Linked DNA regions of Homo sapiens: regions 1 and 2 are each linked to region 3. The links come from fine-mapping of genetic effects on gene expression. A gene starts in region 3. Each other region holds a variant in brackets. All regions are shown on one strand. Distances are between the middles of the regions.

The links. PIP is the estimated chance that this variant, and not a neighbour inherited with it, causes the effect.
Region 1: its variant is fine-mapped to the expression of CHUK in whole blood (TOPMed, PIP above 0.99).
Region 2: its variant is fine-mapped to the expression of CHUK in whole blood (TOPMed, PIP above 0.99). The same link has a PIP of 0.9 or more in lung.

What each region holds. Positions count from the first base shown.
Region 1 is chr10:100,012,220-100,020,677 of GRCh38, forward strand. LOC124902583 (small nucleolar RNA U13) reads left to right here and starts at 7,375; the gene lies at 7,375-7,480. RefSeq lists enhancers at 1,729-1,848, 1,859-2,408 and a silencer at 8,449-8,458. The variant T/C (reference allele first, on the strand shown) is at 4,060.
Region 2 is chr10:100,185,570-100,194,027 of GRCh38, forward strand. It overlaps ERLIN1 (ER lipid raft associated 1), which reads right to left and starts at 460. Exons shown (of 11, transcript NM_006459.4): 1 at 1-460. The coding sequence starts at 57. It overlaps CHUK (component of inhibitor of nuclear factor kappa B kinase complex), which reads right to left. Exons shown (of 21, transcript NM_001278.5): 18 at 8,415-8,458; 19 at 7,729-7,862; 20 at 5,300-5,399; 21 at 2,731-4,058. The coding sequence ends at 4,029. RefSeq lists a silencer at 358-507 and an enhancer at 678-827. The variant TAAATA/T (reference allele first, on the strand shown) is at 3,356.
Region 3 is chr10:100,225,550-100,234,007 of GRCh38, forward strand. CHUK (component of inhibitor of nuclear factor kappa B kinase complex) reads right to left here and starts at 4,047. Exons shown (of 21, transcript NM_001278.5): 1 at 3,879-4,047; 2 at 374-468. The coding sequence starts at 3,983. CWF19L1 (CWF19 like cell cycle control factor 1) reads right to left here. Exons shown (of 14, transcript NM_018294.6): 14 at 6,749-7,822. The coding sequence ends at 7,678. CHUK-DT (CHUK divergent transcript) reads left to right here and starts at 4,111. Exons shown (of 4, transcript NR_186419.1): 1 at 4,111-4,175; 2 at 5,466-5,577; 3 at 7,682-7,894; 4 at 8,404-8,458. RefSeq lists silencers at 3,785-4,024, 5,094-5,356 and an enhancer at 4,135-4,184.

The sequences.
Region 1 (8,458 bases), 210 kb before region 3:
CTGGCTAATTTTTTTTTTGTATTTTTGTAGTAGAAACGGACTATCACCGTGTTAGCCAGGATTGTCTCCATCTCCTGACCTTGTGGAGTTTTTAAAGATAATTTGGCTGGTGGGGTCTTGAGAAGTGGGGAGTGCTGATTGGTCAGGTTGGAGATGGAAACATAGGGGGTCAAAATGAGGTTTTCTTGCTGTTTTCTGCTCCTGGGTGCAATGCAGAACTGGTTGAGCCAGATTACCGGTCTGGATGGTGTCAGCAGATCCATCAACTGCAGGGTCTGCAAAATATCTCAAATACTGATCTTAGGTTTTGAAATAGTGATGTTATTCCAGGAGCAATTTGGGAGGTTCAGGCTCTTGGAGTCAGAGGCTGCATGACCCCTAAACTGTAATTTTTTTTTTTTTTTTTTTTTTTGAGACGGAGTCTTAGTCTACCGCCCAGGCTGGAGTGCAGGGGTGCAATCTCAGCTCACTGCAACCTCCACCTCCCGAGTTGAAGCGATTCTCGTGCCTCAGCCTCCCTAGTAGCTGAAATTACAAGCATGCACCACCACGTCCAGCTAATTTTTGTATTTTTAGTAGAGATGAGGTTTCACATTGTTGGCCAGGCTGGTCTCAAACTCCTGGCCTCAAGTGATCCATCCACCTCAGTCTCCCAAAGTTCTGGGATTACAGGTGTGAGCCACCACTCCCGGCCTTAAACTGTAATTTCTAATCTTGTAGCTAATTTGTTAGTCCTGCAAAGGCAGACTGGTCCCTAGGCAAGAAGGGGGTCTTTTTGGCAAAGGGCTATTATCAATTTTGTTTCAGAGTCATGAACTGAATTCTTTCCCAAAGTTAGTTCAGCCTATGCCCAGGAATGAACGAGGACAACTTAAAGGTTAGAAGCAAGATGGGGTCAGTTAGGTCTGCTTTCTTTCACTTCATAAGTTCCTCAGTTAAAATTTTGCAAAGGTGGTTTTATACTTTTCATTTATCAATGAATTCTTACTGTACATTTGTGATGTAACAGGCATTGTGCTAGGTGTTTGGCATTCAGGCTGACCAACACAGACAAGATCCTTGCCTTCATGGAGCTCACATTCTAGAGTAGGGTAACAGACAATAAAGAAATAAACAAATGATAATCCAGACAATCATGGGGTGTAGTTGAGTGTTATGAAGGAAACAAACCAACTGATGCGATAGATTAGATCACAGAGAATTAAAGCCTAGTGCCCTAGGCATTTGTTGTATGTAATGAGTTAACTTCTCTCCTATGCAATGTTGGGGCTTAGAAACCAATACCCTAAAATAGGGTGCTTTGTACATGTTGAGCTGAAAAAGCAGTCTCAAGGTCTCTCTCAACCTCCTCCCACCTGCCCCTCTTCACTGTCTCTCCCAAAGCATAGTATTCTCTGAAGTTTCCTTATCTGTCCAAAGTCCTGACCTACCAAAGAAAAACAATTATCTCTGATCTCTTTCCTGAGTTTTAATTAACTGAACCCACATTGCAAGAAAGAAGACCAAAGTCTGTCAATAAACCTGGACAGACTTTTGTCACAAACCACTGTCTGGTCTGCAGGCCCAACAGACTTTGTCCCAGACCATTGGAAGTTCCTCAAGTTCATTGAATTCTCCCTAGTAATCATTTATTGCCCTCAATAGAATTCCTCTTCTTCACCCTCCCATAACCTGTTTTGCCAGCATCCAAGTCACCATTTTTTCTGTAGCCTCAAGATGGTACATAAGCTTCTGCACCCCATTGGGGGGTTGGTCTTCCGTGTCACATAAAACTATTGTCAAACAGATGCATATGCCAATTAATCTGCCTTTTGTGACCTGATTTTTCAGCAAAACTTCAGAGGGCGAAGAGGAAGTTCACCTGACCCCAACAGCAACCAGAACAGTTCAAGTCATACTCAGTCCTTGAAAGAACTAAGAGGACAATTCACTCCACACAGCTTCTATGTCATGTGGTTTAGATAAGGAATCTAGGCTGATAAAGGCCAAAGTGAGGGATGGGAACCTTCTCTGAATATAGAGATAGTTGGGGAAATCCCCTCTGGGGATGTAACATTTACCTGAAACTTGAATAATGAGAAAGAATCAAGCCGGACATGGTGGCTCAAGCCTGTAGTCCCACGATCTGCAGTGAGCCATGATGGCACCACTGCACTCCAGCCTGTGTGACAGAGTGAAACCCCATCTCAAAAAAAGAGAGAAAGAATCAGCCATGTAAAGAGCTCTTCAGGCAGGAGAAACTGCAGGTGCAAAATCTTGAAGTAGAAAGCCATCTAGTACGTTTCGGAAACACAAAATAAGCCATGTGAACAAAGGAGGCAGTTTTATGAGATCAGATTAGAAAACAAACAGGGCCAGGTGCAGTGTCACGCATCTGTAATCCCAGCTACTTTGGAGGGTGAGGTGAGAGGCTCACTTGAGCCCAGAAGTTCAAGATTGCAGCACATTATGATTGTGCCTGTGAATAGCCACTGCACTCCAGCCTGGGCAACATAGCAAGACCCTGTCTCTTAATAATAATAATAATAACTATCTTTTTTTTTCTTTTTTTTTTTTTGAGATGCAGTCTCGCTCTGTCGCCCAGGCCGGAGTGCAGTAGTGCGTGCAATCTTGGTTCACTGCAACCTCTGCCTCCCAGGTTCAACTGATTTTCCTGCCTCAGCCTCCCAAGTAGCTGGGACTACAGGCATGCGCCACCACAACCGGTTAATTTTTGTATTTTTAGTAGAGATGGGGTTGCATCATGTTGGTCAGACTGGTCTTGAACTCCTGACCTCAGGTGATCCACCCTCCTCGGCCTCCCAAAGTGCTGGGATTACAAGCATGAGCCACCGCACACGGCCAAATAATAACTATCTAACAAACAGTATGTAGGTCATTTCTGGTTTGGTGAGCCATGGTAAAGAGATTGATTTTTGTGATAAGTTGATGTATTGAGACGTGATTAAAATATCCCCAAATGAAGGGACTGAAATGAAAATAACCAAACGAGATAAATGTGTGTGGAACTGCCTTGTTAACAATAAGGATTATATCTGTATATGTCATATTAAAACTAAAAAGTACATTGTTTTTCCCCTTGAATAATCCTCAATAAACCAAAACACAGAATGGCTCAATTCATATTTTGATTCATCTAATTGATTAAAACTATTTGGGTGTGTCATCCTTTGATATACCGTAAGTACTATCACGGTTATGAGGGGCTGCACCATGAACTAACAGTTTGGCATGACTTGGCCCCATATCAAAGGCAACTCCCTCTGGCTTCCCCCCACAATGCACCATGTCACAGCCATAAGCTGTTGTTTGCAATGGCAAGCAGATGAGAGTAGTGAGCTGCTGAAACTAATCAAAGCTGGCCTTGCTCATGCTATGTCAGCTAACCGTCCATCCTGGAATAGCCAGGGGACCAAATTCCAGGGTGGTGGGGAGGAGGGGATGTATAGATAAAATACTGTTAATATATGCTTATTTCTATTATAAAAGAAAATGTGATCCAACAACCTAGTGATAGAACATGGAAGACATAGGTTTGCATCCTAAAATGTCAGACATCACATGAAAATACTAACAACTATTCATCAAAATGTTGACACAATGCACCTGGCAGTCTCATGGCCAAGGTTCAGAACGGTGAGAATTCAAGTTGAAAAGAGATCGACAGAGGAAGATTGGTGATCAGATCTCACAGGCAAAGGAGAAGTCAGCATGGTTTTCTTTTCTTTTTTTTTTTGAGACGGAGTTTCACTCTTGTTGCCCAGGCTGGAGTGCAATGGCGGGATCTCGGCTCACTGCAACCTCCGCCTCCCGAGTTCAAGCAATTCTCCTGCCTAAGCCTCCCAAGTATCTGGGATTACAGGCGCCCACCACCACAACCGTTTAATTTTTCTATTTTTAGTAGAGATGGGGATTCACCTCGTTGGCCAGGCTGTTCTCGAACTCCTGACCTCACCTCAGGTGATCCACTTGCCTCGGCCTCCCAAAGTGCTGGGATTACAGGCGGAGCCACCACACCCGGCCAAGTCAGGATAGTTTTCACAGAGGGCATCTGTCTGG[T/C]GGACTTGAACTAGGACAAGGCCAACTCCTAGAAGACAACAGAGGCCATTTGGTTTCATTTAGGGATAGACCCTGGTTGGCAAGAGTAAGACCAGGTCTTGTTTTGTTCTTCCTAGAAGAGAACAGACCCTATAAGAAAGCTTCTGTATTCTGAAGAAAAGACTGTATCATGTTTATCTTCAGGGCTGTTCTTAATATATTGATATATTGATGCCTAGGGACTCCTCTTCCTATCTACTTGCAGAAGCTTGAATTGGTTTACGGGAAAACAGAGAATTATTTCACACTCAGAAGTAAAAACCATGGCTGGACGCAATGTCTCACACCTGTAATCCCAGCACTCTGGGAGGCTGAGGTGGGGTGGATCGCTTGAGGCCAAGAGTTCAAGACCAGCCTGGCCAACATGCTGAAACCCTGTCTCTACTAAAAATACAAAACTTAGCCGGGCATGGTGGTGTGTGGCTGTAATCCCAGCTACTTGGAAGGCTGATGTGTGAGATGTATCTCCCTCAAACCTTGCTACAACATTAGTAATGTACCAATGTCTGACATTAAAAAAAAATCATTGGCTTGTAAAATAAAAGCCTTCTATAAACTACAGTGTGTTTCAAATACTATATTTGAGTATTTTTAAAAAGAACAAAATTGTGGTCACTTTATTTCTTCATTTATTTATTCTTCCTCTGATTCCAGAAAGGATTTAAGGAAACTCACTCAATTCCTTTGATCTAGTGCCGGGATGGACTTCATCCCAAAGGGCTCACATGGGACAATCTAAAAGGAAGTCAAAGATGCCTTTTCTCCCCGCTCCTGCGGGGTGAACATGGATCCAAGGGGTGACTTTCTTTGCCGAAGTAGGGGGATCACCTGAGGTCAGGAGTTTGAGACCAGCCTGACCAACATGGTGAAACCCCGTCTCTACTAAAAATACAAAATATACTTGGGCATGGTGTTGCACACCTGTAATCCCAGCTACTCAGGAGGCTGAGGCAGGAGAATAGCTTGAACCTGGGAGGCGGAGGTTGCAGTGAACCGAGATCGTGCCACTGCACTCCAGCCTGGGCAACAGAGTAAGATTCCATCTCCAGAAAAAATAAAATAAAATAAGGGCCAGGCATGGTGGGGCACGCCTGTAATCCCAGCACTTTGGAAGGCCGAGGTGGGTGGATCACCTGAGATCGGGAGATCTAGACCAGCCTGACCAACATGGTGAAAACCTGTCTCTACTAAATACAAAAAAATTAGCCGGGTGTGGTGGCGCATGCCTGTAATCCCAGCTGCTTGGGAGGCTGAGGCAGGAGAATTGCTTGAACCCAGGAGGCGGAGGTTGCAGTGAGCTAAGATCATGCCATTGCACTCCAACCTGGGCAACAAGAGCGAAATTCCATTTAAAAATAAAAAATAAGAATCAATAAAAACAAATTAACTAAAAGAGAGCATTCTGAATGTTTTCACCACAAAGAAGTAATAAATATTTGAGATGATGGATTTGCTAATTACTCTGATTTGCTAATTATACAATGTATACATATATTGTACCCCATAAATATGTACAATTATATGTCAATGAAAGATAAATAAAACAGAAAAAAGTCACAGTAAAATCAAAATGATGCTTAAATTCAACAAAATTATAATGCTCTTTTGTTGTTTTGTCCACAACCATCATTCCTGTTTTTTTTCTTTTTGAGATGGAGTCTCGCTCTGTTGCCCAGGCTGGAGTGCAGTGGCATGATCTCCACTCACTGCAACCTCTGCCTCCCACGGTCAAGCAATTCTCCTGCCTCAGCCTCCCAAGTAGCTGGGATTGCAGGCATGTGCCACCATGCCCGGCTAACTTTTCTATTTTTAGTAGAGACGGGGTTTTATGTTGGCCAAGCTGGTCTCGAATTCCTGGCCTCAAGTGATCTGCCTGTCTTGATCTCCCAGGGATTTTTTGTTTGTTTGTTTTAATGGGAAACAACTCATCTATACTCGCAGTCCCCCATATTTCCATTCCAGCACCCAGAAGTGATCATATGACCCCAGACTGACCAATCAGAGTCACTGTGATAGTTTTAGAGATAGGCACGTAATCCAGTTTGTGCTATTGAGATTCATGCTCAAGAATCAATAGTTTGTTGCTAAACTGTGTTAAATGAAATTTATAGGAGGCCATTGGGTGGAACTGAGCTCTTGCACTAGGCTTAACAGATAAAACCAAAATGGAGTTACTCATACTGAAGTTTCCACCAAGCCAAAACTAAGCTATTTATTTGATCTTCCAAGAAATCAGGCAAGAAATAGATAATAGCCAAATCCCCAAACAGGCCTGTTTTGGGAAGCATGATGAGGTGGCCCCCTCTGCTTTAACCTTTATAAGGAAAGTAACTTTGTAACAACCAATCAGTTTTTGTTCTGTTCCTGCGTTCTTCAGCCCTCTTCTGCCTATAAAGTCAAATTTCTCTGCTCAACTCATCTGAACACTCATTCTATCTTATAGAATGAGTTGTTGCCCAATTCTAGAATTGCAAATAAAAGCCAATTCGATCTTTAATCTAAATTTGTTGTAATTTTGTCTTTTGATAGCTGAGAGAAGATAAGCTAAAAGGAGCTGTTGTTCACCTTGCCTCATGGAGAGAGACTATGTGAGAATGAAGTCACTACTGAAGACAATGAAATCAAGAAATGGAGAGAGATTCCATACCACCTAACTTAGGCACCTCAATCCAGCTATGTCTGGATTTTTAGTTATATGCCAATAAAGGTCTCATCTCTAAACTACTGGCTCAATATGCCAGTCTAAGATGGAAGATTTACTATTTCCTAGTAAGATGAGAAAAATTTCATTTACAAGACTTCTTTATTCTGAGATTATACCTTTCCTAATTTTTGGTGTTAGAGTATTTACGAATTGATGGTGATAGTGGATAACAATTGTATTTTACCAATAGTCCTTAATAGAAAATTAGAAAGTTAGTCCAAAATAGAAAGTAGCCAGGCATGGTGGCTCATGCCTGTAGCCCCAATACTTCGGGAGGCTGAAGGAGGAGGATCACATGAGCTCAGGAGTTCAAGACCAGCCTGGGCAAGATGGTGAAACCCCCATCTCTACAAAAAATTTAAAAATTAGCCAGGCATAGTGGTACATGCCTGTAGTCTCAGTTACTCAGGAGGCTGAGAAAGGAGGATCACTTGAGCCCAGGAGGTCAAGGTTGCAGGCAGCTGTGATTGTGCCACTGCACTCCAGCCTGGGCAACAGAACAATACCCTATCGAAAAAAAAAAAAAAAAGAAAGTTGGTGGGCCCTTTATCCTTCCATTAAAAAAAAATTAGGTCATTTTGTAGGTCATAAGCATGATGATTGAGTTTTCATGCTCATGCGTGAGATGTACCTCCCTCAAACCTTGCTACAACATTGGTAATGTACCAATGTCTGACATTAAAAAAAATTATTGGCTTGTAAAATAAAAGCCTTCTATAAACTACCGTGTGTTTCAAATACTATATTTGGATATTTTTAAAAAGAACAAAATTGTGGTCACTTTATTTCTTCATTTATTTATTCTTCATCTGATTCCAGAAAGGATTTGAGGAAACTCACTCAATTCCTTTGATCTAGTGCCCGGGATGGACTTCATCCCAAAGGGCTCATATGGGACAATCTAAAAGGAAGTCAAAGATGCCTTTTCTCCCTCCTCCTGCAGGGTGAACATGGATCCAAGCGGTGACTTTCTTTGCCTCCTCCCTGAGACTGCAGGGGGAGGCAGGCAGAGTAACAGCAGAAACAAGCAGTGCTTTTTCTGTTTGGCTTTTCCCCGGGCTGCTGGCCTCTTATCCCTTCATGGCTCCAGGCAGTGCTTCTTAGGTGATGCTACACCCACCTGCAGCAGGGCCTGGTGGGGTGGGGGCGAAGGGGTGCAGGAAGTATGTGAACAGAATGAAGGTGGGAGAAAGAAAGATTAACGAGTAGCAGTGTGGGGAGGATCATGAAGTGGTGAGGGAAAGAATAAGAGACAGTAGGGGTAGGGGGAAGCCTTTATAAATAGTGATATTTAACTTCTGGGAGGAGGGAGAGAAGTGATGTTTGCTTAAGCATTTGCTCAGGGGGAATGTTTACTCATGGTTAAACCCAGAATACAGTTAGTGTTAAAGTAGAAATGAAGCTGCATTCCAGGCAGGAGGTGGGCATGGTGGATTGCAGGGTGTGTGCTGAGAGTGTGTGTATGAGACAAATTGTGGTACCACATGTGTAAAGATGATGCTCTAGACACAGGAAGTCTAACTTCTCCAGTTCTGATGGCAGATTTGTACCAAGTCATGCTGTCCTACTTTCTATATCCTTGCTTTCGAGATGGCTGGTTGGGTTTAGGGGTGTTTTCTGTGGCCACGGAGAAAGTGAATCTTACTGGCTCACTTA
Region 2 (8,458 bases), 40 kb before region 3:
GACAGCCACCAACCCCACCACTGCAGCCACCAGAACCCGGGCTTGAGTCATATTCATTCTCGTTCCTCCTGGGAGCGGGAGAAAAGGACCCTCAGTCCCGTGAGTGACAGGTCCACCCCCTCCAGTTTCTACCCTCTCCCTCCGGAAACTTGGCGCTCTCTCGCAGGCTGAGCCGGGGAGTCCAGTACCCCTGTCCCCTCATTCTTCCCTTCTGGCTGAGCCCGCTGACCCCTTGCCAACTCCTCCGCCCCCGGAGGCCAGTGGGCCGCCCCTGCTCGGTGAGCTTCCTGAAACTCCCTCTCCCAAGGGTCGCTCCCGGGTGGAAGGCACTAACTGAGAAGAAGCCCAGCCGCAGGCTCGCGAGGAAAGCCGACCCCTCGGCCGCGCCTCACCGATCAGTGACGCATCGCCCCCGCCCGCACGTGCAGCCGACTCCCGCGCCGAGCCAACCGCCGCCAACAGCCGGCCCCGCCCACTCGCCCAGCACTGCGGCTGCGCGGGGACGCACACGGCGTAGCCCCGGCCCGCGGCTAGTGAGACGGGGAGCGCATGGGACAAAATTCTCCTAGCCGCGGGCCGCGCAGGCTCCTTTGGAGGCAAGTCGCTTTCTGTACACTGCTGGTTAACTGCTTCGGAAGAGGACAGCCCGCAGTCTGGAGTGAGCAGCGAAGCAGAGAAAAGGAGACGCCCTTTCGGACAAGGGACTGGTTGGTTTGTTCTTGTGCAGAGAACCCACTCGCTCACTCTCAAACGGTAGCTGTTCGGTTTATTTGTCCTTTTGCAGTGTATGCGGAGCCCCACTGTGTGGCACGCACTTGCTTCCGGCAGAGATCCTGCCCTTCAGGAGCAACTAAACTTGTTGCAAATAAAGTGCTGTGAAAGTTCAGAAGAGGAAGATATTAGATATAACGGCATCATTCTCTCGTTTTTTAAGTGTTCCTATTATGTGCCAGAATGCTGGTCCAGTGAGGGCTTTATGAAGGCCATCCAGACTACAGGAACAGAATTGCTAAGCACATGGGGCGGGAGGCGGAGGGAATCCTCCAGGGAGACCAAAGTAAGTACTTCAGTTTCCTTGAAGGCTTGTGTGATGGGAAGGAGTGCTATGGTAGGCGTCACTACATATTCTGTTCGTTTTAAATTAAAAAACCATGGGCACATATTGCCAAAAATAAAAAAGGGAAGGAAAAAGGTATAGTTGGGAGATAGATGAATACAAGAGAAATTAAGGACATTAATGGTTTAAGCCTTGAAAGGCTAGAGGTGGAACTATAACTGGACAAGGTGGACTAGGGTTGTAAAGTCCTCTAACCCAGCGGACGGGGTGGGGGTGTGTGTGGGTTGGGGATGAAACTGTTCCACTTCAGATCATCAGGCATTAGATTCTCACAGGGAGCCGGCAAACCTCACATGTGCAGTTCACAATAGGGTTCGCGTGCCTATGAGAATCTGATGCCACTCGCTAATCTGACAGCAGGCAGAGCTCAAGGCGATAATGCTCACTCGCCCGCCGCTCACCTCCTGCTATCCGGCTTGGTTCCTAACAGGCCACTGTCTGGTTCCGGTCCGCGGCCCAGGGCTTGGGGACCCCTGCCCTCTTGGGTAGGGAAGTATGGGAAAGCAGTGCTTTAGGGCCAATGAATCTATAAAACGGCTGAAAGTGGAGACAGACTGTTGGCAAGGAAGTCAAGTGGTTAGGAAACTGCAGGCCCAGGGTTACTTAGTAGTGGAAGTAAGAAGAGGTAAATAGAATCAATCCGTCTTCATTAAAGCAAGACTTCCCAGACCACTCTACCCACACCCTTCAATAAATACACTTACCTGTATCATTCATTTGATTTTTATTATCTAGGAATGTCTGGGACCTTATCTGTTCCAAATAAATGATATTTGCAGAGCTTAGCTATTTTAACTTCCAAAAAGCAAAAAGAATGGAAAATAACTTGCTCCATACCCTGTTTTCTGTAGACATTCTCTGAAGTTTTTCATAATATTGCTTAAAGAATGAAATGTATACAATTCACAACTGCCATTCCCCTCTGAAAAGTTGTTACCCACCAAAAAATAGTGGTCCAACTCATGCATCAAAAGCAAGTTTGGGGATCCCACTATAATAGTCTGTTCTGACTCACACCATCTGCCCAAATTATATAGATCAGGCTGCCCTGACATAACCCCAGCCACACACCAGCAGCGGCCCCCACGCTATAACAAATCTTTAACCAATTATTAAAATATTAGAAAATGCATGACCATTGAAAATAATCCTTAACAATAATTGCAATGCTTGGATGGCTTGTAATGTTCAGACTCCCAGATAAGCACTTTTACTATACTGCCTATGTTGTTTCAGATCTTGCCATCTAGCTTAATACCCTCCAAGTAACAGGTACCCAATAAATGTTTATTACTAAAATCTTCTAAAACCAGGGAAACAAGAGAGAGACTGCCTATTATAATAGATGACGAACAGTGATATGTGATGACTAAAAAATTTGGTTGACTAGGAAAATGATACCACTAGCAAAAATGGGGATGGTGGGGCTGTGACATCAGTTTATAGGGCAAGAATCGAGCATGTTTTTTAGATGTAGATAGTGGTGATAGGACATCTCAGAGGAAAACACTCTTAAAGAAGTTGCCCAATACTACCTTTACCATAAGTCCTATTATTCCTAAGGAAAGTACAGTTATTCTATGCTCTTAATTCCACTTCATGGAACCTTCATATTTTCCTAAGCCATATTCAACTGTTTTATTATAATCTGATTTTTATAATGAATAGAGATCAAGAAAGTAATTTAAAAACCATTTAATACACAAAGTGAAAAACTATTAGAATATAAAAGCATTTCACATTTTTTAAGACAAATAATATCTTCTAAATTACTTAGCAGATGATAGAGGTCCACAGTCCTTTCTCTGAAACCCTTGGGGCAAGTTGTTTCAGAATTATGAAATTTTAGATTTTAGAAAAGTAGTTTTGTGCATATACCATACTACATTAACCAGCCCTCACCACAGTCTGTGGCAGCAGCCCTCCCTCTCATCATCAAGCAGCAAAATAAAGGAATATTCACACTAAATGGGATAAAAAGATTCAAGGTCAGTTCAGATTAGATTGCAAGCAAATGAATTTTGTCACCAAGCTTATGGAAACCTTGTTTTCAGAGCTTTTTGGATTTTGGAATTACAATTACAGATAAAGGAGTGCAGACCTTTATAAATTTGTATGACAAGACATGAAAGATTGTTTAAACAAATGACTCATTTTTACAAATGAAAAAACATGTAATTTTCAAATACATTATAAATTAACAGGCATCTTCTCTTTGATATTATTAAATGTACATCT[TAAATA/T]CATATACACACAACAACATGATTTATGAAAGCCAACTAATATTAGAAGCACAGATACACAATCCCTTCGATGAGAAGGGGATACTGTTAAATTTTCAGTGGAATTTAAAATGATTACACCAACTCCTTATGATGCCAGGAAGAGAACCTGTTCAGTGCAACACAAGGAGGTAGAATTTATTCTTCAAGAAATAGAACTTGTGAGCAGCCTTTTTAGAAAAAAACACAGGTAGACTTTTACTTAAAATGCCTATTACTTGAGGTTTTCTTCTCTGTATACAAAACTACATTTGGTCTTACGCCCAAAAGTTAAAAGTTGACACTAATACATAGAAGGTATTTTTAATCAGTTAAATAAGTAATGTTTTACCAAGACTGAAGGCAAATGTGTCGTGATGATGCTTCTAAATAGCTGTGGTATTAAAACAAATATTCAAACAAGTACATTGACTTTTTCTAAATTCCTGTCTGTTTAGAGGCTTGAATTACTCAAAACTGTTATACTTGTAAAATCATGTTCTTCTGATCATAGTAGAAATGTAGTTTCTGTTCATAGCCATTTCTTCCATTGACTGATGTCTGAAGAATGGTTTCATGGGGGAAAAACACATTTCCAACATGTATAGCAACAACTTCCATAGGTTTGGGGACAGTGAACAAGTGACAACTCATTCTGTTAACCAACTCCAATCAAGATTCTAAAACCAGGCATGAAAAAGTTACAATTAGATGTTGACTATAAGTTATAAGTATATGGGTGTTCATTTTTGCAAGTTTTCTGTTTGGACATTTCATAATCAAAAGTTGAAAAATCATTTCATTTACCTTATTTCCTGATTTAAAAAAATTTCAGAGTTTTTTTCATAAATATTTGAAGTAAACAATTATTCTTTCCTTTTCTTTTCTTTTTTTTTTTTTTCTTAAGAGAGCAGGATCTTGCTATGTTGCCAAGCTGGAGTACAGTGGCTATTCACAAGTCCAATCATAATGCACTGCAGCCTTGAACTCCTGGGCTCATGCAATCCTTCTGCCTCAGCCTCCCTAGTAACTCGGACTACAGGTACATGTCATATGGCTGGCCACCATTATCCTTTTTTTTTTTTTTTTTCCCCGAGACAAAGTCTCACTCTGTCACAGGCTGGAGTGCAATGGCAGGATTACGGCTCACTGCAGCCTGAAACTCTTGAACTCAAGCGATCTTCCTGCCTCAGCCTCCCAAGTAGCTGGGACCACAGGTGTGTGCCACCACACCTGGCCAATTTTTATATTTTTTATAAAGACAGGGTTTCCCATGTTGGCCAGGCTAGTCTCAAACTCCTGGGCTCAAGCAATCCACCTGCCTTGGCCTCCCAAAGTGCTAGGATTACAGGCGTGAGCCACCATGCCTGGCCACTGCTATTTTTCTTAATGAAAGAGGAAATGTACAGAATTGACATTAAGACTAAATGCAGGAAAAATTGATTCAGTAGACATTTTATGGTAATTTCCTCAAGTTTTAACAAATCAGTAGTTTATAGTAACCAAATCTTAACACACACTTATTATTACAACTATATTAACATAATTTATTTTCTATTCGGGAGGTACCATATCTGAATTAAAGTACAAGTCCCATCTTAATGGAGAAAATTGATTGCTGAAGCAAAAAGGTACAGAACAAACCATTCAATTTCAATGGTCACATTGTGAAGAAGCTTACCACTCATTTAATTTGACCAAAAATGCTATTATTGAAGATAATTGATGACATAATCCTAGTATATCCCTGAGTAACGGCAGATAAGGATTTAAGGTTGAGGATATTCCCCAAATGCTCTTTCCTCTTGAGTTCTTCTATTTCCCATATGCATCCCAAATGCCAGATAAGGCTAGCATGGAAAGTTAAACCTTTTGCACCCAACATAGCCAAAGCAGGCACCCATATCCACACAAAACTTACCATCATACTATTGCCCTGTTCCTCATTTGCCTCATGAATAATAGTGCTTAAATGGCCAAGGCAGTTCAAATTTTCTTCTATCATTTGTGCTGAAGTCTCCCTGTGAGATGAAAGAACAAAGCCTTTTCAAACTCAGGAAAAGGGCATATGAATTTCCTCTACTTTCTAGTCTTCTAGGTTAGCAAGATCACTAGCCTTCCTGTAACCCAGTACCCCAGTGCAGTTGACTCCTGTAGTCTTTAGTTTCCTCATCCCTCCCTACAGAGGCAGAGTCCTGTTAAGACCAGGCTGCTGCCTCTACCTCTACCTAACTAATGATAAGAAGTCCACTATAACTCCAGTCTGACTTTCCTCTGAAATGTAAGATGCACTTATGTACAACTTGTTTTTCCCGTGAAAATGTAACTAGGGAGGAAAAAATCCTTGTGGCAAAGACAGATGAAATACGTTTTTGTTTCTAAATACTTCTCTTTCCTTAAAAGTAGTAAAAACACCAGCATGCATACTTCACAGACACAAATGTAGGGGAGAAGAGAGAAAAGTAAAATCTGTTCTGTAGAGATCACAGAAAGTGAAAAACTCATTAGAAACTACAGATGATAGCAATGAAACGAAACAAGCAAGCTGATTCCTGAGGACAGCAAAAGAAAACAGTGTGGTGGGGGAGCTACCCAGAACCAAGAAGTATCCCTGGAAGTTCATATTTGAAGGCAGTCCTGATTGTGGTTTCTACCTTCATGCTTTCCTCTTCTATATGGCCTCTAGCTTCTCCCTTTGCCAATCTTCAGTCCCCTAACAAGAGTCCGTTTTAGGTCATGGATGATAGCCACTATTAGCTTAGAATGACATTCTGATTCAGCTCTTATCCAACAGATGGAAAAATTATGGTCAAACAGTTCCCAATCCTTGGTAGTTAAGTACCACAGGTACATTATAATTGAAATCAATTTTCTTATACAATGTATTCTGGCTGGACATGGTGGCTCATGCCTGTAATTCCAGCACTTTTGGAGGCCGAGGCAGGTGGATTACTTGAGGTCAGGAGTTCGAGACCAGCCTGGCCAACATGGTGAAACTCCGTCTTTACTAAAATACAAAAATTAGCCAGGTATGGTGGCACGCACCTGAAATCCCAGCTACTCGGGAAGCTGAAGCAGGAGAACTGCTTGAATCTGGGAGGCGGAGGTTGCAATGAGCCAAGACTGTGCCACTGCACTCCAGCCTGGGCGACAGAATGAGACTCCGTCTCAAAACAAAATATAATGTGTTCCTTCTAGAAAATACATTGAAAATGTCTGTCAGATATACTTTTGCAAGCAACTACACTTCAAATTGGAAATTACCTGTATTGTGGTGACATTTGTAAACATTAACATCCGCTAAAAAACTTAAATGCCTTTAATAAAGGCAAAAAAGTAAGTAAAGTATTAAATTTTACTTCCTTCAACTCTGATTACTGGAGTATTTTGTAAAGTCTATATATTTAATTATAGCCTGTGCTACAGTTGTAGGTGTACTGCATTGGGCCACATGTATAATGACCCCAAGATATATACCCTGGAACTTGCTTTCTTTAAAAAAATAAAATACCTGATATCAGCTTGCCTTCCTGCCATGTGCTTTTCTCTCATAAAAGTAGAGTACAGAATGTGCAACTGCATGACCTCCTGAGCAGTGATGTAACATGGCTGCACTTCTGCAAAACTAATTATGGGCAGAGCTTCCAGGAAATGCTGGTGCTGTAGAGGTCTCCATGAGTTGTGAGAAAAGCGACAATACACAAGCTAGCAAAGAGCCACTGGCTTTGGATACGGCACATCTTAAGCTGAGAAAATAACAGAAATGGATAGTCATTCAGCTTTTAGCAAAAGAGTAGGAATTAATAAAATATAGGGCTTGGAATCTGAGTTCTTGCAAAACTGATTTAAAACACTGAAAAAAGTCTAATCTTAGAAATACAAAGTTATAAAATAGATCTCAAAAATTTATTAGAAGGGTAATCAAGGATCCCCAAAATGATAAATGCAAAATGATAGCATAATTTCTCATAAACTGTTAATGAAGGAGTAAGGTTTGAGTAAAAGAAAGTAATAAGCCAATAAAAGAAAGGACTTAGAACTTGGACTTAGCTAATAATAAGCAACATTTGAGCTAATAATACGCAACATTTGCTGAACATTTATTTCCCAAGCACTTTATATACATTGTCTAATCAAATTTCCACAGCAGTTCTATGAGACATTCCTGTTTTACAGGTGAGGAAATATGAACATCAAAAAAGTCAAGTAAGTTGCCTAAGATTATTACAAAGGGATAGTCAGGACTCAACCCTGGTCTGAAGGCACAGAAGACTACCTTAACAACTACTGCCTCATTCCTATACCACTGCTATGAAAACACAGCTATCTATTGTTACAAAGTAAACCCACCCATCTTGAGGAGTTACCACACATGACAGAGAATGATCATGTTCTGCTGAAGTCGGGGGCAGCCATGCTGATGTCTGAGGGGTTACTGCACCTTCTAGACTGGATCCTACAAGGGACCGGGCAGAACTCTGTGTCTGAAGGAAAAGAAAAAAACATCAAAAGATTACAGGCAAGCATCTCTGTTGATTCACACAATTTCTTATCATATTCCTAAGACTTACATTTCCGTTACTACTTATATGCACAACCAGAGTATTTCAGTACAAAACTATTCCCACCTTTACACACCATTAGTAACCTGTCCTTGGACCCTTTCTTCATTGACTAAAACCAAATATATCCACTCATCTTATACCATTTTAGTTGAAGAAAGAAAAAAAAAACCCAGTTGAATAGATGGTCAATTTCATTATCTAGGCAGGTACATCTATCCCCAAGTTAGGTTGGAATACCACAGTAGTCAAGGGCTAAGAGGAGTATAACAACAGAGAAATTGGAAAGGAGAGATGATAATAAGTCCTGCATCTCAATTGCTAGTCTGGACACCAAGCAAGGAACATGGATGTCATCCCAATGCAAAATATACATGTCTTCAAGAGGGCCCACCTCATGCTGATAAAAATCCCCTTTGCAAGGAATAATAGCAACTCAATGTCACATTAAATAATTCATTAATAATTACTTACACAGGCAATTTTAAGGAGATGCCATATTTCTTTCTGCCTTTTTC
Region 3 (8,458 bases):
TTATGAATATGAGTGTACAAATTACTCTTTAAGTCCCTGCTTTCAATTCATTTTTGTATATACCCAGAAATGGAATTGCTGGATCATATGGTAATTCTATTTTTAATTTTTTAGGAATCACCGTACTGTTTTCCGTAACAGTTGCACAATTTTACATTCCCACCAACAGTGTGTAAGTGTCCTAGCTGATTTTAACTAAACCTTCTTAATCTTAATGTGATATTATTATTTGAAATAGAATATATTTAATGAGAGAAAAAAATATATGTTCCCAAAAAGATCCTGAGAAGAGTGGATTCCTGGCCTCTTTCCCCATGATGACATCTGGTTGGGCTGTAGAACCAGGGAAATGTAAGTCAAGGAATACACTTACTTCTTCATAATCTGGATTTCATGGCACCATCGTTCTCTGTTTTTGGTACTTAGCTCTAGGCGACAAGACTTAATTGCTATTTTGAGATCAAGTTCCTGCCAAAATAGAAAATCAACAGAAAAAAAAAATTAGGTTCTTGTGAAGATTTATTTGCTACCAAAGAAATAACTTAAGACAACAAAACTTTTTAGCTTTACTAATTAAATATATTTATCCACAGCTCTCTTGAGGCAATGCTTTTTAAAAAGATAAACCATGAGACTATTACACCAATGCTTTAAAACTGACCTTCAAACACACAACAGCATACAAGGGAAAAGTGCCTGAAACTGATTTTATAACAGGTCTTTTCAGAACTCTCTCTCATATATAATGTTAGAAAAAAAAAGATCCTGTCTCCTCAGCAAACCCCTTTCAGAGCTTAATCAAGACAACTAATATGTGCCCCAGCTTCTAGCATAACTAAAATGAAGAAGGTAATTCAGGGCTTCCTGGACTCCAAACAGCAAGAGAAAGTTTTAATATAACCAAGCCTAAAGCAAAAAACTCCAATCCTAATGTATGCATTTCAAATGACATGAAGAAAAAAAATCCTACCAATGAGTGTACTTCTGCTTCCATAGCTACATAATGAACCTAACATCTCTTGCCTGTGACTAGTAATTTAGCCAATTCTGACTGAAATTAAACCCATTCTGATGCATATTACAGGAAATAGCCAGACCCCATCATATTCTGGCAACATTAATAATGCAGCTCAGAAATAGCAGTCAGGGCTAAACAGGCTACACTATGTTTCTGATATCACAAGGAGAGTTCAAAAGAATTTCCAACATATGTAATCTCTGACACAAACCAGAGTTGTAATAAAGGCTGTGTATGAATACAGAGAGAAGAGCCCAGGGGCCAGGACAGAAAAAATATATTATAGGTGGGGAAGCAAGACATAGCTTGGATAGGGTAGTGTGAATTGGAGGGTGAGAGGAAAAAAGAAGCTAGAGATAAGATGATACCTGGTGCATAGAGAAGAAGGAAACTAGGATAGACTGCATGCTAGCCTACCCACAGTTCTCACTCCCTTCAATCTTCCTTTTGTTATGAGCAGGTGACCAGTTATATCTATGTCCCATGCAGGCCTTTACCACCATGGAAATGAGAATCAGGCACAACCATGAACAACACTGAGCCCTGAATGCTCATGTTAATGGAGCAATAAGTTATCTATTTCAAAAATCCCACTTTGTAAGATCCTTCAACTCCTTAATTTATATTTCATCAACTCTGTGAAATTCTACCTTTTCACAAAGAATATTCTATGGGAAGTTTATAGATGTACAACAACAACAAAAAAGTCGGAATATTCTGGAGATAGGGTTATGGCTGTACAACAACGTCAATGTACTTAATGCCACCTAACTGTACACTTAAAAATAAAGTGATAAATGTTGTGTTATGTATACTTTACCATAATAAAACAAAAAGTGATTAATTCATCCATCCCCACCCAGGGACCAAGAAAAGAAGTCACAAAAGCTGCCAGCATGCATCCTTTTTCCTTATGACCAGGCGGATAGGCAGGCTTAGGTAACACAGGCAACATGCCACTGGAAGCACTTGGCTCCCACTTTTTTTTTTTTTTAGTGTGTTATGTTCCCTCTGATGGTGAGAATTATTAAATTTACTACTTATCCTGCTATCACAGGACTTAATGCCTTAGTCCTTCACCTTCCATTCTCTTTCTCCAAGATTTTCTCCTATGCCCTATCTAGAAACCTGGTTCACAAAACTTCCTCAGTTCTAACAGTTTCAGTTGTCATTCTAATTACCCTAAATATGCCTATTTTCCCAAGGTAGACTCCTATCTCCCCTTTCTCCCACCCCAAATTACGAGCTTTCTCACTACACCCATGTTCCTTTAGATAACAAATTATTACTTTTCCTCTTGAATTAACTTCTCTATTCACAAGCCAAGCCCAGGCATTTTAGTAAGATCTTACCTGTTCATCTTGTCCCATATGTTGTTCCACTCAAATTTATCCTTTACAAAACCATTTTCCTAGAACAACACTTTTTATCTTGACATTTCCTTAAGGCCAATTAATGAGGAGCATTATGATCATAGCAGCAACAACAACAAAGTAGCAGCAGGTGCTAACAGTTGAGGGCTTTCATGGGTCAGGTACCGTATTTAGCTTTACACACATTACTATTTTATTTAACTCTCAAATCCATGATGCATGTAATTATTATACTATACTTACTTTACAGGCAACAAAACAAAGCCTATATTACAGGAATTATTAGTCCAGGGTCTATTTACCTAAAATGTCCTTTAGGAAGGCACGAACCTCTCAAATGGCAATGCATGGTTGTGTGAATGTGCATCTGTGCATTTTTCTGGGGAAAGGGTTCACAGCTTTTATCGGTATATCAAAAAATACATGTCCCAGGCCTGGTGCCGTGGCTCACGCCTATAATCTCTGCACTTTGGGAGCCTGAGACAGGTGGATCGCCTGAGGTCAGGAGTTCGAGACCAGCCTGGCCAACATGGTGAAACCCCGTCTCTACTAAAAATACAAAAAAATTAGCCAGGCACGGTGGCGGGCGCCTGTAATCCCAGCTACTCAGGAGGCTGTGGCAGGAGAATCGCTTGAACTCGGGAGGAGGAGGCTGCAGTGAGCCGAGATCGCGCCCTGCATTCCAGCCTGGGCGACAGAGTGAGACTCCGTCTCAAAAACAAAAACAAACAAACAAGACCCAAATATGATTTTTTAACTGCTACTACAATGGTTAAACATTCTCTATTAAATCAAAGTAAAATTCTTGAGTCTGATGTTAACTGTCCTCCACCTACTAGAGCGCCCCCCATCTCCATCTACTAATATAGCCTTTCGTTTGAAGCCATGCTCTGCACCAACTCACCCTCATACTGTCCCGACCTGGAATACATCCCCAATTCCAAAGCCCATCCATGCTTCCAAAGGCTTAACTCTGGACCCATCATGAAGCCTTCCTTGTCTACTCCAGTCCCCACTGATATCATATGGCCTCCAAGCGCGCGCGCGCGCGCGCACACACACACACACACACACACACACACACACGGACGCACACATTCCCAAAGGCAGTCCCCTTCAGCCCTCTTCTCACACATTCGTGCTCCTACATACACACTGTGACGTGCATCTGCCTCACACACCCTGACACTCCACATTCACAGAGACACACACGCACTGTCACACTCACTAAACACCTGGTCACAGCCTGACAGTCATACCCAAGTTCCCCGCAACAGCTCTATCTATGCCCAGTACCTCAAATACAACTTTGGACACACAGGCATAGTATCTTTCTCTCTAATACACACACACAAGCCCACTGGCCCCCAAATACTGCCCAAGGTCCCACCAACCATCTATCCCACACTGTCAGCCCTGTGTTCCACAGACGCTCAAACCCACCGCCGCTCCAACCCACCGCCGCTCCCTCTCACGCCCCGCCTCACCCGATGCTGGTACAGACAGACGTTCCCGAAGCCGCCGGTGCCCAGCCGCTCCCGCATCTCCCAGGGCCCGCCCGCGCCCGGCCGCAGCCCCGGGGGCCGCTCCATGGGGCGGGAGGGCAAGCGGCCTCAGGTTCCACAGTTGTTCCAAGGCCGGTTCCGGGCCGCCGATGCTCGCGCGTCTTTGTTCTCGCGAGAATGAATGCGTCACTTCCGGTAACCGCTGCGAGAAGGCCCTTCCCTAAGTTCTCCCAGGGCGCTGCCAGAGCCCTGCCGGCTAAGGGATGGGGAAACAAACAGGTACTCGGTCCGCTCTTTAAGTCCCCTACGTATTTTCCGGGAGGGCTGAACGGAACCACAATGTTTTTCTAGTCTTGGAAAACATAAGATCTCTCCAAACCCCACATTCCCGTCAAATCCACTTTTCAAAGCAGCCCAGTCTCTCCTGTATTTTTTTCTTTTTAATTAAGATGGGGTCTCGCTCCGTTGCCCAGGCTGGAGTGCAATGGCACGATCACGGCTCACTGCAGCCTCGACCTCCCGGAATTAAGCGATCTTCTCACCTCCCGAGTAGCTGGGATTGCAGGCGCGCACCACCTCGCTTGGCTAATTTTTTATTTTTTGTAGAGACATGGTCTTGCTACGTTGCCCAGGCTGGTCCCGAACTCCTGGTCTCAAGTAGTCCTCCCACCTTGGCATCCCAGAGTGCTGGGATTATAGACATGAGCCACCGCGTCCAGCAATTAGTCTTTTCTAAACTTCATATTGTCTCTACTCCTATCTACACTTCACCTTTCTTCAGATCCCTGCCATCTATCCTCCAACTCCACCACCAGCTGATCCGGCACGCTAAAGACCACCAATGATTTAAAGGCTGCGAAATCGTTAAAATACTACGCTAGCAGGCCCACTAATGAATTAGCCTTCTTGTTCACTGACTTCCCAATACACCTGCTCCAGGATATCCCCTGTCATCCCAAATGACTCAAGAATGTGACGCTATTCCGGAGTGAAGAGTGTTTCTCGGGATTTCGCGAGCTTTTTTCCTAGATGCCTCACAGAGCTTGCTGTCCGGCAGTCCAGTTATGGGTTTGCCAGCACAGTAGTTCATTGTGAGAAGTGTTTCTAATGGGTGCTACAGGGCTGCAGAGGCAAGCTTTGGGAATGCTGTTGGTGCAGCAAGTGCTTCCGGGTGGCGGATTGCCATAGCATAGGGGAAACAACTCCTGGTCTTCCATTTAAGAGGGTCATACCTTCACTGTACCTGGGGGATCTCAATACTCCAAGTAAAGGAATCAGCATGGAATCAAATTATTGATAAATGTGATGCTGCAACCAGAATGTTGAGCACTGCATGATACAGACGAAGTCGATGTTGTAGGTCATTAGTAACATGTGGTATGGGAGGTTCTGGTTTCTGTAAGTGCATGGTTTCCATGGACTTGGAGATGATGATGCCTCTGAGGACATGTCATTTAGAGCTGGGCAGACCGCACAGAGAATTGTGGTACAGATTGTTGTAACAGTATGAAGCCCTCTCATTTGCTGTATGTACAGCATGGCCAGTGCTAATGTGCTCAATTTCCGTAGGTGGGGCTGTAATCTCGTAATTCCCAGTCAAAAGAGGTAGGAAGGGATGCTGAGGACCCAGGGATACTGATGATTGGGCTGACCCAGAAGTGGCCATCTTTGTGGAAACCAGGTTGGTTCCCTTGGTTAACTTTTTAAATGCCCCCATTCCCAGGGCCATGAGTAATTTGAGTTGTTTTTTGTTGTTGTTGTTGTTATTGTTTGAGATGGAGTTTCACTCTTGTCACCCAGGCTGGAGTGCAATGGTGTGATCTCAGCTCACTGCAACCTCCACCTCCAGGGTTCAAGCAATTCTACTGCCTCAGCCTCCCGAGTAGCTGGCATTACAGGCGCATGCAACCACGCCCAGCTAATTTTTTGCATTTTTAGTAGAGACGGGGTTTCACCGTGTTGGCTAGGCTGGTCTCAAACTCCTGATCTCAGGTCATCTGCCTGCCTCAGCCTCCCAAAGTGCTGCAATCACAGGCATGAGCCACCTGGCCTGTTTTTTAAAAAGCCTAAGCCTGTTGACCCCAGGCTCCACAATCTTCAATTTTCCGAGTCTCAGTTTTTTTTTCATGAGTAAAATAGAGGTAATACCTACCTCACAGAGATTTTGTGAAGATTAAATGAAACAGTGTCTGGACCATAAGTGCCCAATATAAAGGTAAAAATATTTTTCTTTTTGCGCCTAATATGTAGCATTCTCTTTGCTCCTTCTCTATGTAAATGTTAGATCACTATTTTCAAGCACTCCTTAAATACTGATATTTCTCAGGTAATCATCTTCAGCTCAGGACTGTATTTACCCTATCTTAATTTCACCTATGGCCTATACCCTGATGATCCCCAAAGCCCTGTAACCAACCCAGGTACTGATGAGTTTAGAACTGCCCAGCAGCACAACAGACACATATTAGATATATCAAGCACCTAAAACAATATCCAAAGGAGAATTATCTTTTTTTTCTTAAATCTGTCCCTTCTATTCCCCATTAAACTGTAATCTCTGGGACAACAGGGACCATATTGGGACATGACTATGGTCCTGGAGCTTAGAAAAATGCCTGGCACATAGGAGTTAAATATCCGAAGGACTAAATGGGCTCTTATCTATGAATAAGATGAATGCTTAAGAGAAAAATAGCAAAAGCCTTGGATCCCTTTTCCACTTTGGGTTGTTCAGGGAGAAACTGCCCTGTGTGATTTTGGAGTAACAGCTGGGCCTAAAGCTCTAGCCCCTGCTATTACACATACTACTTCATTTCAACGGTCACAGGCAACATGAACACAAGACACTTCTCAACCATGGAAAAACATCTGGATTTCATTTGGTAGTTTAAAGGTTTTTGAAAATGTTGATATACACAAGCTGTACTTGGAGCTGGATAACAGACATAGGAGCTGGATGACAGACATACTTTTATTCTTTTATTTTTGAGATGGAGTTTCACTGTCACCCAGGCTGGAGTGCAATGGAGCGATCTTGGCTCACTGCAACCTCCACCTCCCAGGCTCAAGCAATTCTCCTGCCTCAGCCTCCTGAGTAGCTGGGATTACAAGTGCCTGGCACCACGCCCAGCTAATTTTTGTAGCTTTAGTAAAGACGGGGTTTCACCATGTTGGCCAGGCTGGTCTCAAACTCCTCACCTCAGGTGATCCACCTGCCTCGGCTTCCCAAAGTACTGGGATTACAGGCGTGAGCCACTGCGCCCGGCCTTAACATAGGATTTTCATCCTAGAATGACTTTTCCCCAAAAAGATTCAATCTTAGGCCTCTTGCTGTAGGCAAGTTCCATGGGACTGCACAAAAGAGGCAGGGAAACAGTCCCCATGGGAGATTGTAGTTTCTTTAAAAATAGGCTTCTAGGCCAGGAATGGTGTCTCATGCTTGTAATCCCAGCAGGTTAAGAAGCCAAGGCAGAGGATCCCTTGAGCCTAGGCATTACAGACCAGCCTGGGCAACACAGGGAGACCCTCCTGTCTCTATAAAAAATCAAAAAAGTTTGCCAGGCATGGTAGCATGCGCCTGTGGTCCCAGCTACTCATGAGGCTGAGGTGGGAGGAACTCTAGAGCCCAGGAGGTTGAGGCTACAGTGAGCCACAGTTATGCCACTGCAATCCTGCTTGGGTGACAGAGCGAGACTTTGTCTCAAAAAAAATTCTTTTAATTAAAAAAAAAAAAAAGCTTTACTACTTCCTGTGGAGTTCATAAAAAGTTCTTCCCTTTGTTTTAGTCATCCAGAGTAAAGTCATAGGGCTCAAAGTCTTTCCGGAAGCGGCGAGCCAGGGTCTCCTCGTCTTCCTTGCTGATCTGACACTGCCTCCAGTCAGACTTATCAGGAACATTAAGGATGGCTTCACTGGCCAGGACCTCCCTGCAGAAATAGCACAAAGAAGTCAAAATGGAAACTATCAGCCTGAGCTCTCCTCAACATCACCCAAAGGAGGTATGCAAATTTCTCTGACTTTGCTCTCCTGCCCTGAGTGCCATCTCTGCCATACTATTGATCAAAATCATACCCGTTTTAAATGACCAGCTCAGGTACTATATATTTCCTGATCCTTCAAACCCCACTTGCTTCTCCCTCTCTTAAAAAACTTGGAACTATATTATTGGTACTTAGAGAAGCAACACCACATAGAAAAAGGGCAGGCCCTGGTGTGAGAAAGATCAGAGACTGGATCCCATTTCCAGCTTTGCCACTTGCTATCTATGATCTAGACAGATGATTTCATCTCTGAGTCTTGATTTCCTCACCTATGAAATGCAAATAAGAACACCCACCATACAGGGTTTTTGTGAGGTACAGAGATAACACAGTCAAAGTGCCATATTAGCTGTGATTACAACCTGCCTTAAACTGTAGTTTTGTCACCTCAACTAGACATGAGTTTGCAGAGTCAGGAGCCTAGTCATACCCACTCTGATTTAAAATTCCTCTGCCTCTCCTTCTAGGGGACTCAGGCCCACGTAACAGCAGCACAAGCCCAATGTCAACAAAACAACTATC